Linked DNA regions of Homo sapiens: region 2 is linked to region 1. The links come from fine-mapping of genetic effects on gene expression. A gene starts in region 1. The other region holds a variant in brackets. All regions are shown on one strand. Distances are from middle to middle.

The links. PIP is the estimated chance that this variant, and not a neighbour inherited with it, causes the effect.
Region 2: its variant is fine-mapped to the expression of SNED1 in whole blood (TOPMed, PIP 0.98).

The regions. Positions count from the first base shown.
Region 1 is chr2:240,994,499-241,002,819 of GRCh38, forward strand. It overlaps SNED1 (sushi, nidogen and EGF like domains 1), which reads left to right and starts at 4,120. Exons shown (of 32, transcript NM_001080437.3): 1 at 4,120-4,552. The coding sequence starts at 4,340. RefSeq lists a silencer at 3,752-4,171.
Region 2 is chr2:241,059,228-241,067,548 of GRCh38, forward strand. SNED1 (sushi, nidogen and EGF like domains 1) reads left to right here. Exons shown (of 32, transcript NM_001080437.3): 17 at 3,564-3,677; 18 at 4,360-4,473; 19 at 4,785-4,898; 20 at 5,617-5,730; 21 at 6,072-6,368. It overlaps SNED1-AS1 (SNED1 antisense RNA 1), which reads right to left and starts at 4,891. Exons shown (of 3, transcript NR_187212.1): 1 at 4,853-4,891. It also overlaps a transcript of MTERF4 not described here. RefSeq lists a silencer at 4,840-4,999. The variant T/G (reference allele first, on the strand shown) is at 5,038.

The DNA of each region.
Region 1 (8,321 bases):
CGCAGGGGCTGTTGGAGGGTCCCATCCAGCCTCTGGCCAGGAAGCTCCGACGCTCTGACAGGCCCTCAGGTGCCTGGGTCCGGGGGCAGCACCCTTTGCAGGCATCCAGGGGTTGCAGACCAACACAGGGAGGGGACAAATGGGAGAGGAAGGCCCCCTGGGGAGGGGGCACTGGAGGAGGGGCCATGTTGAACGCAGACGGCGGCACCCAAGGACAGGCCAGCCCTCTGAAGCACCCCAGGTTGAGGGAAGCACAAGCTTTGGTTGGCTGAAGCCGGGGCAGGAAGCCGGCCAGCTGGAACCAAGGGCATTGTTTATCTGGGCTTCCAAAACATTCATACTTTTCAAATTAATTGCAAAAAATGTTAGCAGGGAAACATAGAAAGGAGAATGTAACCACCACCATAATCTGTGACCTGCAGAGCCCCGAGGTGACACCCAACTCTCCCTTTTTCTAGCACACGTGTGCTTAGGACGGTTGAGGCCATAGCGTGGATGCTACTCAGAGTACTATTTTTTAAAACTTTTGCTTGACACAATACCGTTAGAGTTTTCCCGAATCACTAAAAACGTCTCAGAGCATGGTTTTTTTGCTGCGGAAGCTCCGGGGCATCGGAGGACCCTGGGCCTGAGTGTCCCTCCACTGCTGGCTGTCCCTGCCATCCTGGAGCCCACAGAGAATGGGGCTCTGTCCTGTCTTGGGCACTCAGGAGATGGACAAGGCTCTCAACGGGAGGCAGGGTCTCGTCATCCCCAGGACAGGGAGAGCCGATGCCTGAGCCCACGCAGCAGTGAACATCCTGGGAAGGAAGTGTTGAACCCCAGTCCCATCGTTTCCCTAAGAGCAACCACAGAAGTCCCGTCATGGGAGTCAATGTGTGTGCGGCTCCGTGTGCATGAGAAGAGGAGGTACAGGGCAGGCTGCATGGCCCCCACACTCCCTCAGGGCCAACTGCACCAAGACCCCAACCAGCCACACAGGACAGTGACCAGGTGAGCAGGTGGAGCGGCCCTTGGTCCCTGTGACCTCCTGGCCTCATTCCGGAGCATGTGGAGGTTTACTTGGGATCAGCGCTTCTGGGGCAGGGGACCTGCACTCCACCTGCCACTTCTGGGAGAGAAGGAGAGAAAGTTAGGGTGGGCTACAGCCAGCCAGCCCCTGCCCCTGGCAGCTCAGGCCTGAACCCCCAGGATCTTCCACCCTGTGAAGACCAAACAGGCCCAGCCAACCAGGTGCAGGTTGGGGAGGGCACCCCCACCTTGGCCTGCGTGGAGCCCCGAGTCCTGGGGCATCCTGAGGGCAGCTCCCGGGGCACCCCATCTAAATTGCACACACGCTCAGGCCCTAAATTAAAATGTCACAGGCCGGTTGGGGAGGCTCGGGTTTCCTGGCCACAGAACATGAGCCTGCTTGATAAAACAATTTTGGTTTTGATAAATGTGGATTTTCTGTGGCAGAGACAAAGGCGCCCTTGAGTCCAGAGGGGAGCCTAAAACAGCACATTGCTGAAAAGTATTTCCTGATAATATTTTTAGCACCTGAGAAAAACATTTTTTTTTCTCTTTTTTGCCTGCAGAGTTGTGTTGTTTTTTTTTTGTTTTTTTTTTTTTTAATGAAATGTAATGCCCAGCAGCAGCGGGGCCTTTTGTTAACCCCCAGCTCCCCGGGCCCGGCTGAAAATCTGCACAGGGTGCAGGCCGAGGCTGGTCAGCAGGGTACAGGCCCGAGGAAGTGTGGCCTCTCTGGGCCATGAGCAGGGTCTGGCCCACTGCCAGCCACGCCCCAGGCCCATGAGCTCTGACTCTCTGGGACGAGGACGGGCCTGAGCGTTTCCAGCACTGCTCAGCGACCCCCGTGAGGCCCACCAGCCCACCCGCCTGAAGAAACAGGCCTCCACTCGGTGCAGCCACTGAGTGCCACTGTGTGCCCCAAGGTGCCCTGGGCGGCCCTGCCCCCAAGTTGACCCAAACCCAGCCCAGAAATGGGTTGTTACCCAGGTCCCTGTCTTGTGTGCTCAAGAGAAGGTCAGCAGTGGGGAGAAGGGCGCCTGGCCTGGGCAGCTGGCTGGGAGGCAGCACCCCAGGCTGGGCTCTGAGAGCAGAGCAGGAGCATGTGGTGGGAAGTGGATGGGTAGTAGGGACAGGGCAGGAGGTGGGCCAGCCCTAGTGGGGGTCAAAGCCTCACGTCCCCATGACAACACCTCTTCAGCGGAGAAATCCTGCCCTGGGGTTGGCACTGCCGCCTCCCACCTTCGCAAACTCACCGGAGGGGCCTTCCAGCCAGGCCCCAAATGCACTGAAAAGAGGGTAGAGGGCTGCCAGGTTTTTCTAGAAAAAAGACAAATAGAAAAGCGTTCTCCCTGATTCCCGCCACGGTGACGCCTGGCAGCTCTGTTCCCAACGCTGCTACATGGGGCCTTGTCCTGACTCCACGGCCTGTGCCAGCCAGAGGTGGGAGCAGCCCTCCCTGACCAGGGAGGCCAGGGCTGGGCTGAGGAAGGGGTTAAAGCATGTTCTTGAGGCCCCACGTATGGGCATATGCTGCCTCCGTGCATGTGAATAAGTATGCATGTGTGCGTGGACGTGTGTGCATGTGCGTGGAGACATGTCTCTCCTTGCCAGGCTCTCACCGAGAGCCGGCCTCAAGTAGGGATTCTACAGTTCCACGCCCTCTCTGGTGCCTCCCTCCAAAGACAGGAGGCCTTGACCTTTCTGGCCCTGGAACCATGGCTGTGCTGCTGTCCTGGAGCTCTGAAAGCTGGGACGGTGACCTAAGGGCTAACTGCGGGACAGAGCCCTTCCCCTCCCAGGCCCAGTTTGCCTCTCTGCAAACAGAATTGCCACCCCATGCAGGGTGGGAGAGGCGCCAGGGGCAAGCTTTCAGGAGGTGCCAGTGCAGGGTCAGCTCCTCCTTAACAATTCTGCACCCGGCCCTGACACCAAGTCTAAAGGGTCATGAACCTCTGAGTGAAAACACCAAGTGCAGGATCTGTGAGAACCGGCAACACCCAGTCACACGCAGAGAACCCTCCGCTGCTTCTTAAAAATAACATTGACTGTGCCTGGCTCTCACTGAAAAACAACACGTGCTCACTTGAGATATTTCAGAAGATACAAACGCAAAGACAAACAAAAAACCACCCAGCACCTCAGTGGTAGATGCAGTTACCATCAGCCCGGCCTTTCCTGCTTGTCTTCGAGGGGTGCACTCTTATCTTTGGGGGCCCCAGTGTGGCACGCAGCCAACACCACCCAACACCAGGATCTAAGAGAAGAGACCACGGTGGGCCGGGTGAGTTCCAGGAATCAGACCCTGCCATGGGCCTGGGGACATAGAGGTGGTCCCGGCTGAGGCCCTGAGGAAGGACAGACAGGCAGCCCAGGCCAGCAGCCCAAGAGACAGGGGGCAGGGCTGGCAGGCCACAGGGTGGGGACCCTGAATTCAAATACTGGGACTCAGAGTCCTGCCCCCACCTGCCAAGGCCGGTGTCATGCACGCACTTGCCCCCAGGGCCTGAGTGGGTCAGTCTTCCCCACGGAGGGTTTGCTTTACCCAGGGGTCGCCCCGAGGTCCCGAGCCTCCCAGGAATTTCTCCTGATGCGGCCACGCAGATGCAAACACTTTGTTCCATGCCTCCTAGTCTCCGGCCCGGGCTCTTCCTCACACAGACCCAGGCAGGGAGTGGGCTCCGGGGTTAGTCTGCCCCTGTGGCTGGAAGCCTGGCGTCCCCATGCTCAGGGCTGGGAAGGGGGCAGCACGGAACGGGTTCATTCAGGCACTGCCTGGCCAGGGTCCCCTCCCGCCCCCCGCGTGATGACACGCCTTCAGGGCGGGCCCAGCGTCTCAGGCCTTAGGGACACAGGTCTGTCCCAGGACGGCACTGAGGGCCCAGGCGCCTCCACCAGGGTAGGGACCCAGGGCGGAGCATGGCCCCACCACAGGGCGCGCGCCCGCAGAGCCCTCACCTTGCCTGTGCCCACGCCAGGGGACTGAGCTCCCCGCGCGCCCGCGCCCTCCCACGGGGCCTGGCGCTTTAAGAGACGCCCGATTTGCATGGCCCCGCCCCCCCGAGTGACCGCCGGGCTGGATATTTAAATCGTGGCCCCAGGGGCGGGGCTGGCCCCGAACGCGGTCCCGCCCGGCGCTTTCCTCTGCGGAGCTGCGGCGAGAGCGCGGCCCGGCCGAACGGGCGCGGGACGCGGAGCCCCCGACGGCGCGGCCAGCGGGCGCGCCCGCGCTCCCCGCACCCCGCCTGGCCCTGCCGGCCACCCCCGCGCGCAGCCTAGTCCCCCAGCGCCCTGCTCCGCCAGCGCCCCGTCCCGCCCGCACACCTCCGCGATGCGGCACGGCGTCGCCTGGGCGCTGCTGGTGGCCGCGGCCCTGGGGCTTGGGGCGCGCGGGGTGCGCGGCGCGGTGGCCCTTGCCGACTTCTACCCGTTCGGCGCCGAGCGCGGCGACGCCGTCACCCCCAAGCAGGACGACGGCGGCTCGGGGCTGCGGCCGCTCTCGGTGCCCTTCCCGTTCTTCGGTGCCGAGCACTCCGGACTCTACGTGAGTAACCCCCGGGCTCGCGGGGCGCCCGGGAGGGGAGGGAGCTGCGCCCCGGCCGCTGCCCGCCGGGCCCGGACTCCCGCCGCCGCCGCCAGCCACTTGGCACCGGGGCGGCCCGAGGTGGAATGAGGACAGCGCTTCCTCCTCGGCGGCCAAGGCCGGACAGCGGCCCGCGGGAGAGGCGCGCGGGCGGGGCGGGGGCGGCAGCCGCCGGGCACCGAGGCGGGGGCGAGTGGAGCGCGGCGCCCCGGCCCCTGCCAGACCTGCCGAGCGCGTCTTCCCGGCGCCTGATTCCCAGGGGAGAGCAGGGGTCCTGGTACTGCCCTGGTTTTCACACATGGCAATGTGGCCGTGGGCACGGGCTTCCCGGGCCTCAGTTTCCCAAGTGGGGCGCCGGGCCTGCGAAGGTTGCAGCCCCTCCTTGGGCCATTTCAGCCCCGCCCCCCGTGGACGCCAGTGCGGCCCAGAGCCAGGAGGCTGGACCCCTTGCCCAGGCGCTCAGGGCAGGGCCTGCTTCTTCGCTGACCCTCCTAGGCGGGCTAGCAACAGGCTTGCCCCTCCCTGCCGTCCTCTCCGCAGTCTGGGGGCTGGCCGCTCAGGCTCAGACTCTCCAAACAGGACTCCCAGTGGGACTCCTGGGGCCAGGGACTCATGACAGCAGGCTCAGCTCAGCTGAAGGAACAGGCCCGAGTGCCGGTTCTGTCTCCATGGCTCCCAGAGTGTGACCCCAGGCCAAGCCCTTATGGCAGCCCAGGGAATGAAATGCACCTGGTAACTGCATGGAGCACTCGCCCTGAGTAGGCCACGGTGCACTGGTACCTGGTGGTTCCCTGAAACACCCCAGATCATATCTAGAAAACTGCTGGGCCAGCCTCAAGTAGAGTCCCCTCCAGCTCCGTCACCACGGCCACCTCCACCATCAGCCCTCTCATACCCTCGCCCACCTCCAGCCTCAACCCACTGCCAGCCACATCGCCTCTGCCATCTGTGCTGCCCGGAGTAACACCACCTGTACTGCCAACTCCTCCGTCAACACCACCTCCTTCAACCCCACCACCAGCAGCACTGCCTCCACCACCACCTTCCCCATGGTCCCCAGCTTCCCGTCGTCACCATCCACATCCTCTGCATGGTTGTCATCATCCCTCCCCACCTCCATCCACAGGGCCTCCTCCACCACATGCCCTCTAGTGCGCCTCCCACCCCACAACTGCCAACACCATCCACAGCGCCCACTGCGTTTTCCACACCTGCTCAGGAAGGCCTCCCCACCTCGGTGGCAGCACTGGGTGACCTGACTGGTGGGAGGGGCAGCCATGCTGTCGGTGCTACCCCCTGAAAGTCCCTCTGGACCGGGACTTGGACAGAGGAACGGGACTGACTCCTGGAAGTACGAAGTGGGTAGGACAGAATGGTGCTCAGCGTTGGCCCGAGCTGGAGGAGGCCTGTCCACTTGAGGTATGGGACACTCACATTGGCACCATCCGAACAGAACTCAAGAGGCTCCTTAAGCATTTGGGCCAGGCTCAGCTTTCCCACTCACAGTCACAGGTGAAAATATTATTAAAATGGTTAACCCACTTAACAGCCTCACCAAAAACATCTGCCCTTGCCAGAGCAACTAGGGGAAACAGCTCTAACGTGGGAAGATCTGCTAGGAGAACTAGGGTTTCGTCAGAAATGAACCTTCTGGCTGCTAACAAAACATTTATCTCCATCGGAGCTTTTTCCTGAAACAAAGATATTATTTGAAAACCATTTGCCGATGTGGACACAGTGCCTGCAGTGCACTTCACCTTTCTGTTTGCTCAGCAGGAGGCTTGAGGCTGCGTTGCCCAGGACACCTTGCCTGAAGTAACTGTGCGGACTCTGTGGTCAAGCAGGGAGAGAGAAAGGGGTGCTTGGCAGCAGGTTAGGGCTGAAGCCAGGTGGAAAGAAGGGAGGCATTTGTTCTGAAGGAAGTGGACCTGCCTGGGGCCTCCCACGCCCACCCAGGCCGAGCGGACCCTCTTCTGAGGCCCCTGGCTCTGGCCCTTGTCCAGCTCCAGTCTATAGGGGCCTCGTGTCTGCTGGCCCTGGACTCAGACTCCCATGTCAGGCCCAGCCAGGACCCTCCAGCCCCCATCCCACTGCAGTGACCTCTGCGCTCCTCCGCCCCCAGCCTGTCGCTTGACCAAGAGTAGGCTTGTTGTCTGAATGAATGAATGTGCCTCCCTCTGACACTGCCTGCAAGTCACAGGTAGAAATTAGAAGTGCTCTTGCATGAGATGGGTGCTTCTTCTGTCTTCATCAGAAATAGCACATGGATTACTGCCCTAGCAAGACAGCTCTGCCACACATGGAGTGGCCCCCTTTCCAGAAGGGACCCATTGTTTTGCTTCTTTCTCATGTCATAGTAGCTGTATGTGTGTGGTAAGTCGTAAGGCTCTGAAAAGTGTTGAAAGTGCATTTTATTGCTAAGGTTCTACACACAGACAAAGATAATGCAGCCGAGGAGCGTGGCGCGCCGAGGAGTGTGGCGTGCTGAGGAGTGTGGCATGCTGCCGCTATCCTGCCATGCAGGAACTGCCAGTGTCTGCATTAAGACGGAGCTTGCCGCGGTCTGTGGGGCTTATGCAGGTGGAGTGGTTTCCTAGGGGCAGGTGCAGGGAATGAGAGACGAAATCTTCCTGGTGCCCCCTACACTGAAGCTCCTGGCTCCAAGCACTGCCCCCATCCACAGCATGGTCTCTGGGCCATGGGAGGATCTCAGTTTCTTTGGCATCAGGACCCCCGACAGAGCCCTGAGCAGAGGCAGGGAGGATTTGAGGGTCAAGAGTGGGTGGTGCCCTGCAGAGCCCGCAGGCAAGAAGGAGGAATGTGGACAGTCAGACTGACCCTCGCTGGTGCTGGCTAAACCCCCACTCTGTGCCCTGAGGCTTCGTGCCACACCGCAAGTCTGCTGGCTCTGGCTCTGCACAACATTACCATCCAGGCACAGTCCCGGCCCTACCCCTCCCAGAACACGGAGCCCAGGGCAGCTGCTCTGGTGTGGGAGTTCACATGCAGCCTGTGACCTTTGCCTGGTCATTTCCTCCCTGAGCCTCTGTCTCCCCATCTGTGTGGTGAAGCTCCCCCATCAGGTCATACCTGTGACACACCCCATCACTGTCACGGTTGTGTGGTCGCCAGCTCCAAGCCATCTGGAAAATCCACCCTGACCCACAGGGACTGTCTCAGTGGGACCGAGGCCTGCGCATGAGTGGATCTGGGAGCAGACATGTGGGGAGAAATCACTGCCATCTCTGCTCTCTTCTGAGCTCATGGAACACCCCAGCAAATGCAGGAGCCCCTTGGCTGGGAGGAGGGTCCTGGGCTTCCCCTTGGCTGCCCTATTCACTGAGGTTCCCGGGCTGGCCCACCCCCTGCTATGGGCTTGGCCAAGGTGGTCCTGCCCCTCATCAGCATGCCCTTCTTGCTGCTGCCTGGGTGTGACGGAAGCAGATGGAAGGGGATCCTGGGGAAGTGGAATGGGGCTGGAGTCGAGGAGGATGCTGGAGTGAGAGAGCCTGATGACTCCAGGTCAAGGCCATGAGCCCAGGACAGCTGTGATCTGCCTGGACCTCACAGGCAGCCCCTGAGAGGATGGAGCAGGACGTCATGCCCAGTGCAGATGAGGAAACCGAGGCTCAGAATGCAGATTCAGGGGCCTTCAGACTCCTGCGTCCAGCTGCCTCTTACTGTGCCACCCCAAACTCAGTGGGACCCAAACAGAAGTCCTGCTTCCTCC
Region 2 (8,321 bases), 65 kb after region 1:
TGTTACACTTAATTTGTAATTAAAAACCTTCCTCAGAACAGCTGTGTCAGATTGCTTCACGGATGAATTCTACCAAATGTTTAAGAAAGGAATGATACCAACTTTGTACAACCTCTTTTAGAAAGAGCTACATATTTTTTAGAAAATCTAGGAGGGAAGAACACTTCTCATTTGATACCAAACTCAATTGATACCCAACTTATTTGATAACTTCTCAACTCACCTTGATACCAAAACCAGACACAGACACTACAAAATTTGAAGTTACAGACTGGTATCTCTCAAGAACATAGACACAACAATCCAAACAAAATATTACTAAGTCAAGCTCAGTACTATATAAAAGAATGATACAGTCATGACCAAGTGGGATTTTTCTCAAGGACACAGGTTGGTCTAACTTTTAATGTCAATCAATGTACTTCATCATATTAGGAGATGAAAGAGAAAACTATATATCTCAATAGATGCAGGAAATTATTTGACAAATTCAACTGGTATTTAAAATTCTTAGTCAACTAAGAGTAGAAGATAATTTCCTCAACCTGATAAAGGACATCCATTAAAAACCTCAGCTACCAGTGTACTCAGTGGTGAAAGACTCCACCTGGAATCCGTACAAGGCAAGGTGTCCATTCAGTACGTATTCCCAGCATTTTCCTGGAGGCCCTAGACAGTGCCAGATGACAAGAAAAGGAAATAAAAGGAAGGAAAGGAAGAAAGAATTAGAGATCACATGATTGTATGCATAGAAAATCCTAAGGAAATTCTACAAAAGAAGCTATAGAACTAACAAGTGAATTCAACTAGATCCCAGGATACAGGGTCAGTATATAGAACCTGTTGTAGCAGTGAACACTTTGAAATGAAAGTGTTACATTAATAGCATCAAAAACATGATAAATTTTTAAATGCGTAAAAGGAACTATAAACATAAATGTAAAAGCTAAAACTATAAACTTTTTTTTTTTTTTTGAGACAGAATCTCACTCTTGCCCAGGCTGGAGTGCAGTGGCACAATCTCGGCTCACTGCAACCTCCGCCTCCCTGGTTCAAGCGATTCTCCTGCCTCAGTCTCCCAAGTAGCTGGGATTACAGGCACTCACCACCATACCCAGCTAATTTTTGTATTCCTAATAGAGACGGGGTTTCACCATGTTGGCCAGGCTGGTCTTGAACTCCTGACCTCTGGTGATCCACCCGCCTTGGGCTCCCAAAGTGCTGGATTACAGGCGCGAGCCACCATGCCCGTCCCTAACTATAAACTTCTAAAAGAAAGAAATACAAAAGCATATGAGAAAATATTCATGAGAGCTGGAATACAATGGTTTTGTACTTGGAAAAATATTATATTGGTTCTCTATTTTTCATACACTGGAATTAAATCCAGGTGGATTAAAGACCTAAATGTTTCTTTAAAAAAAAACTATACAGGGCCGGGCACATGGCTCATGCCTATAATCCCAGCACTTTGGGAGGCCAAGACAGGAGTTTTGTTTGAGCCCAGCCTGTGCAGCATAGAGAGACCCCCAACTCTACAAAAATAAACTAAAATTAACCAGGCGTAGTGGCATGCACCTGTAGTCCCAGCTACTCAGGAGGCTAGGGTGGGAAGATCACTTGAAACCGGAGTTCAAAGCTGCAGTGAACTGTGATTGCACCGCTGCATTCCAGCTTGGGGGACAGGGTGAGACCCTGTCTCAAAAAAAAACAACCAAAAAAAACTATATAATTTTGTGTGGAAAATATAGGTAAATATATTTTTGACTTTGGGGTAGTGAAAGACTCCTTAAGCCACAAAAAGAATTTAAAAAGAAATGATGAACATACTTGACCATATGAAAATTAGAACCTAAATCCATAAACCTTAAGAAAGTGAAATCTAAACTACAAACTGGGAGAAGAGATAAATAGTCTCAAGACTACATGAAGAACTCTGATAAATCAATGAGAAAACAACCTAATAGGAAAATAGAAAAAAAAACATGCATAGGCATTTCATGGAAGAAGAGATACAAAAGGCCAACAAACATAAAAAGAAATATTCTATTTCATTAGTAATCAGGGAAATGCAAATCAAAAGTGCAATGAGGTACATTCAGCTGGTAAATTTTCAGAAGTCTGAAAAGCCTATACCGGTGAGAATGTGGATCAACAAGATTTCTTATGCATTGCTGGCAAGAGTATAAATTGCTAGAAGCACTTTGAAAACAATGTGGCACTCTGCCTGTTGAGCAATCTGCCCACTGTTGCTCATTTACGTCAACTGTGTTCCAGCAATTGCACTTCTGGGTATAAACCTAAGAAAAACTTCACGTCTGCACCAGGAGATGGGAAAGAATATACACAGCAACATTTTTTGTAAAAGCAAAAAGTCTAGGCTGGGCGTAGACTCATGCCTGTAATCCCAGCACTTTGGGAGGCTGAGGCAGGCGGATCACGAAGTCAGGAGTTCGAGACCAGCCTGGCCAACATAGTGAAACCCCATCTCTACTAAAAATACAAAAATTAGTCGGGCATGGTGGTGGGCGCCTTTAGTCCCAGCTACTCGGGAGGCGGAGGTTGTGGTGAGCCAAGATCATGCCACTGCACTCCAGCCTGGGCAACGAGCGAAACTCCATCCCCCCAAAAAAAAAAAAAGAAAAAAAGAAAACAAAAAAAGGAAAAAGTCTAGAACCAACCCAAAGACCCAGCCAGTGAGAATGGGTGAAGTATGATATAACCACACTGTGTAATGTTATTCAGCAGTGAAAATCTATGAACCACAGTGACCTACAGTGTGGAGTTCTCTTCTTCATATAATGCTGAGAGAAGACAATATATATCATGATGTACTATGAATAAAGTTCATAAACAACAAAAACATTCACTATTGTTTAGGCAATTTATAAAATTTTTAAGCTAATTTTAATTACATATTTTACTGCCAGAAAACCTAGTTTTTAAAGACAAGGAAATTATAAACCCAGAGATTCTTATCGCAAGGGAAGAGAAGGGTACACGGTCGGATGAGCCCATTCAGCATTCTGGCTGCCGGGGTGGCTGCTAGTCCCAGATGTCACTAAGTCATTACCATTTATTTACTTTTTAAGCATGAAATTAAACTTTAAAAAAATAAATATTTAAATTCAGGAGCACAACTCCCGCTTGAAAAGAAAGCTGTGGTGAATCATTTAAAACCAAGATTTGTCCCAGATGGACTGGTTTCACAGGTGACTATTATACATTGAAATGGCAAGATGGGACATGAGACATTTTCTGTCAAACCCCTGAGGCCTTTGTCCTGTCGGCCTGAACCACTGGAATTAAGTCCCACAGCGTCTTCTGGGAGCCCTGGGGTGGTTTCAAGCCCGCCCTGCTGCTTCACAGACACAGCCAGGCACTGAGCCCCAGGCCCACTGCCCTGCCCCGACTCCAAGGATATCCAGCCCTGGTCTCTGGCCTTTCCAACCACTGATGATGTATCATCGAATTCTGTCTGGCCCCTCAGGACTAGTTTATGTGCATCTTAATTTGGCTTAATCGTGGCCACATTGCTTTATTCTTGGGCTCTCTCCTCTCAGAAATCGATGAGTGCCGGTCTCAGCCGTGCCTGCATGGGGGCTCTTGTCAGGACCGCGTTGCTGGGTACCTGTGCCTCTGCAGCACAGGCTATGAGGGCGCCCACTGTGAGCTGGGTAAGAGGGGCCCTGGCCCCGCTGGGGTGACAGCTGCAGCACACTGGCCATGTGCCTGAGGCACTGGGTCCCCCGGACAGGTCTCTGTCTGGATGGCCAGGGTGGCCACTGCATGCTTTCTCGGGCCCCTGCCAGCTCTGACATCCAAGACAAAGATTTTACAAATATCCCTTCCTGCACCTCCCCAGGGGAGACTGAGAGCCCAGCTGAGAAATGCTGGCCTGGCTTCAGGGCGCAGAGAAGGTGGGCGTCGGAGAGGGCAGGTCACAGTCTCTGACACCTGGTCGGTGCTTCCAGCCAGTGGAGGGAGGGGAGGCCTGCCCCATGAGCCCTGCACACTCTTGTACCTCGCTAGGGCTCTAAGCCTGAGAAACGCAGGCTCCAGGGAGGGCAAGGCCCAGGGAGCCGTGCCCAGTCGTGGCCCTGGGGAGCCTCCCATTGCGGAGTGGCCTGGAGGAAGGCATGGCCTGGAGGTGGGGCTTTGCCAGCAGGCAGTGGAGGTGGCACGCCTCCCGAGGAGGGGTGGGTTTGGGGCTGATGGAAGAAAAAGCACATGTCCTGAGTAGTTGCTCCCAGCTGGGAAAGGGGTAACTGAAGCCCCAGGAAATGCACGGAATCCTGGGGGCATGTGGGCGCCTCAGACTTGAGCCAGCAACACCCTTGACACCCCTTCTCTGTGCAGAGAGGGATGAGTGCCGAGCTCACCCGTGCAGAAATGGAGGGTCCTGCAGGAACCTCCCAGGGGCCTATGTCTGCCGGTGCCCTGCAGGCTTCGTTGGAGTCCACTGTGAGACAGGTAGGGGCTCCCTCCAGTGGGCCCCACATGCAGAGCCTGGGCCTCTGGAAGATCAGAGAGGAGGTGGGGCATCCCCACATTCCCTGCTGGGCAGGCCACCTGGGGAGAGGGACCCCCAGGGCTGCGGCCACCTTGGGAGGGAGGGGTGGAGGTGAGGGTGCTGGGGAGGGCTGAGGGGCGGGACCTGCCCACTGCCCCTCTCTCCTGGCCTCCGCCCCTAGACTCCTCCTTTCCCTTCTTCCCGCTGTCCTCTCCTCCCTCCCCCAGACTCCCCCCTTGCAGCTTGGGCCCACTCTCTGGGTGTTCTCCAGAGGTGGACGCCTGCGACTCCAGCCCCTGCCAGCATGGAGGCCGGTGTGAGAGCGGCGGCGGGGCCTACCTGTGCGTCTGCCCAGAGAGCTTCTTCGGCTACCACTGCGAGACAGGTAGGGCGGCAGGCCTGCCTGCTCCCCGCCCTCTGCCCGCCTGCTCCCCGCCCTCTGCCCGCCTGCTGCCCGCCCTCTGCCCGCCTGCTCCCCGCCCTCTGCCCGCCTGCTCCCCGCCCTCTGCCCGCCGCCTTGGAAG[T/G]CCCCTTCTCAGGCCAGTGGCCCTCCGCCTGTCTCCCTTGGTCCCACAATGGTGCCTTCTAAACCTCCCCATCTCCTGCGCTCACCCCCCAGACACCCCTCTTCACCCGAGGACACACCCAGGGGTGGGGCCTCACGTCCACACATAGGCCCTGCTGCCCTTGGACAGGCCAAGTTTCTTGCACACCCAGGTCTGGCCCCTGGCTGTCCTTCCATCTGGAACATTCTCCCTAATCAGCCCCCAGTGGGATACCTCCTGATGAGGCTTCCCTGACCACTGACCTCCCCTCCTCAAGCAGGACTGTCACTGGGGTGGTGGCCTGTCCTGTCCTGATCCAGTGTCTCCTCCCCTCAGCCAGTCCGGCTGGTGGCACTCCGCTGTGGAGGGTGGAGGAGCTGCTGGGTTGGGCCCCGCAGGGCAGTGGAGGTGGCAGAACCGAAGGGAGGCAGTAGCTGTCCTGTGCCCCCCGCCCCTCCACACCCACGCAGGAGGGACCCAGTGCCCCAGGAGCAAGGGCGGGGCTGGAGCAGGGACCCCTGGCCACGCCCCAACATACACTGCCACTTTTTCTCCCCTCAGTGAGTGACCCCTGCTTCTCCAGCCCCTGTGGGGGCCGTGGCTATTGCCTGGCCAGCAACGGCTCCCACAGCTGCACCTGCAAAGTGGGCTACACGGGCGAGGACTGCGCCAAAGGTGGGTGGCGAGGGCGCCTCCAGTGAGGGAGCCACGAGGGGGTCCCCTCTCCCTAGAGGGCCCAACGGTCTCCAAGGGCAGAGCGTCTGGCCGCTGCTTGCCCAGGCCCCTTCCCTGAGGAACAGGGAGGGGATAAAATCCCCCGGTGGGCTTGAAACACGGTCACACATTCAAAAGTGTGACCCTCCTGGAGGTACGTGGCCAGGGACAAAGAAGGACTCTGCCAGCGATGGCTGTGTCAGGCCCAAGAGCCAGACCCGGCTGAGCCGCCGACGGGAGCCAGGCATGCATAGCTAACGGCTGACCAGTCCCCTCCCCTTGTTTTGACCCAAACCCTGAAGAGCTCTTCCCACCGACGGCCCTCAAGATGGAGAGAGTGGAGGAGAGTGGGGTCTCTATCTCCTGGAACCCGCCCAATGGTCCAGCCGCCAGGCAGATGCTTGATGGCTACGCGGTCACCTACGTCTCCTCCGACGGCTCCTACCGCCGCACAGACTTTGTGGACAGGACCCGCTCCTCGCACCAGCTCCAGGCCCTGGCGGCCGGCAGGGCCTACAACATCTCCGTCTTCTCAGTGAAGCGAAACAGTAACAACAAGAATGACATCAGCAGGCCTGCCGTGCTGCTGGCCCGCACGCGTGAGTGTCCCCGAGCCTGGCCGTCCCTGCCCAGCCCCTGCCCCTCGAGGGCAGCGCTGGCCCCGGCACCTGCAGGGCGGCTGTCATGCCGTCCACCCTCCTAGTTCTTGCAGCAGCAAGACAGACAGCTGAGCTGGGGGTTGGAGGCACCGCCCTGCTGGAGACAGAGCTGTGTGGGAGTGGCCTTGGGTCCACAAGATACAGGCATGGGATTGGGGCGCATAGAATCGAGCCAAGAGTGGGAGCAGCACAACCCCCAGGCATGGAGCTAGGAAGTGGGACTGGGGAGGAATGGGGGCTTCCCAAAAGGGTCCCTAGAAGGAGCCAGTGTGGGAGACAGGGGCCGCGGGGGTGGGCTTGGGGGGGCTGGGACTCTGGGGTGCTCTGAAGGCCTGGGGAGAGTTTGAAAGAGGCACCTGCTCACAGGGATATGTAGGCGCTGAGGTGTGCTAAGGGGAGGCATCGGTGGCTCAATCGGGAAGAGCCGTGGGGCAGGCCCTAGATGGAATGACAGACCCAGAGCCTCCACCTGGAGCTGGCACTGAAAGCTGTGACCAGATGTGACCCCTGAAGAGGGGGTCCTAGGAGGAGCCTCCTCAGAGCCTGAGCCACCAAGATTGCAGGGGAGGCCCGGGTTGTGCACAGCCTGTGGGGTTGTTGCCGTGTCGGGGAGCAGAAGATGCTGAGCGCTCTAGGGAAGGCGTCAGGGCTTAGCGGGCTTGTGTGCTGCTGGGAGGGATTCTGGGAAGGAGAAAGGAGCCCTAGAACATGGCAGTGGACGGACAGGGGCAGGGCCGGAAGAAAGCAGAGGGCTGGCCTTCCACGGAGCCCGGCCGCATCAGCTAGAGCACAGGGGATCTCGGAACAGGCTGGGCAGGAACCAAGTGGGGTGCAGGGCCATGGGGCCATGGGACTCTCACCCAACATGCCTGTGGCCTCCAGACACAGGAGCAAGAATGGGGAAGGGGTGCTAGAGGCTCGAGGAAAGAGGAAAAGGTGCTGAGAGCACAGACTGCTGCGAAGTGGCGTGATGGATGGATGGGTGGGTGGGTGGCCAGGGCTTCAGGGAGGCCTAAGCATCCAGCAGGGCCCTGCGGGGCGGCCACGTGAGTTTGGTGAAACCTATGGGTAGCATGGCGGGTAGGTGGGGAGGAGCTCGGCGGTTCTCACAGGAGGAAAGCCTCCTGGCCACACCTGGGCCCTAGCTTGATGCCAATGCCAAGGGCATTGAGGGACAGGAGAAGGCATTCAAGGCAGCTTGAGCCCACCCAGAGGCCCACAAGGGCCTGTCCTGCAGGAGTTGACCACCAAGGGGCTGGAGTTCCCAACACAGCAAGGACACAGAGCACACCTCGGCCAGTGGAGAGCCTGGGCGCATGTGCGGGTGGCACTGAGCAGGTGTCAGCAGGAGCTGCCAGGGGCTGAGTAGGGGTGGCTCGCCTGGGCTGTTTTAGGAAGAAGCACCTGCAAGGCCGCCCCATGTGAGATCTGCCCTCGGAAGGTATCTGGAGTGAAGACAGAGCCCGCCCTGCCCGCTGCAGAGTTGGGGCTCCAGCCAGCCATGGTGGGTGGAAGGGACCGCTGTCCACAGACCGGGGTGCTGAGTTGCCGGGAGCTGAGCGCTGCCCTCTGGGCTCTGCCTGGTGCATCAGCAGTGGCACTGGAGCTTCGGAGGAGACTGGCTGGGCGGGAAGCGGAGCTCACAAGTGGCCCCTTCCCTGCAGTTGCTGGGAGTTCTGTATGTCTGTCCTCCTAAGACAGCGTTGCCCAGACCAGGCCCGGATGTGTGCTCTTAGACCAAAATAGTCAACTGGCACAGAAAAGGGGAGGTCCGGGTTACTCATGTCCAGAGGGACTCCGGCCCATCCCCTGCCATGTCACTGCCACATCTAAATGGAGACTAAGACCCCTGCCTCTGGTAAGACGGGCTGGCCCACAGCGGGCTCTGCAGCC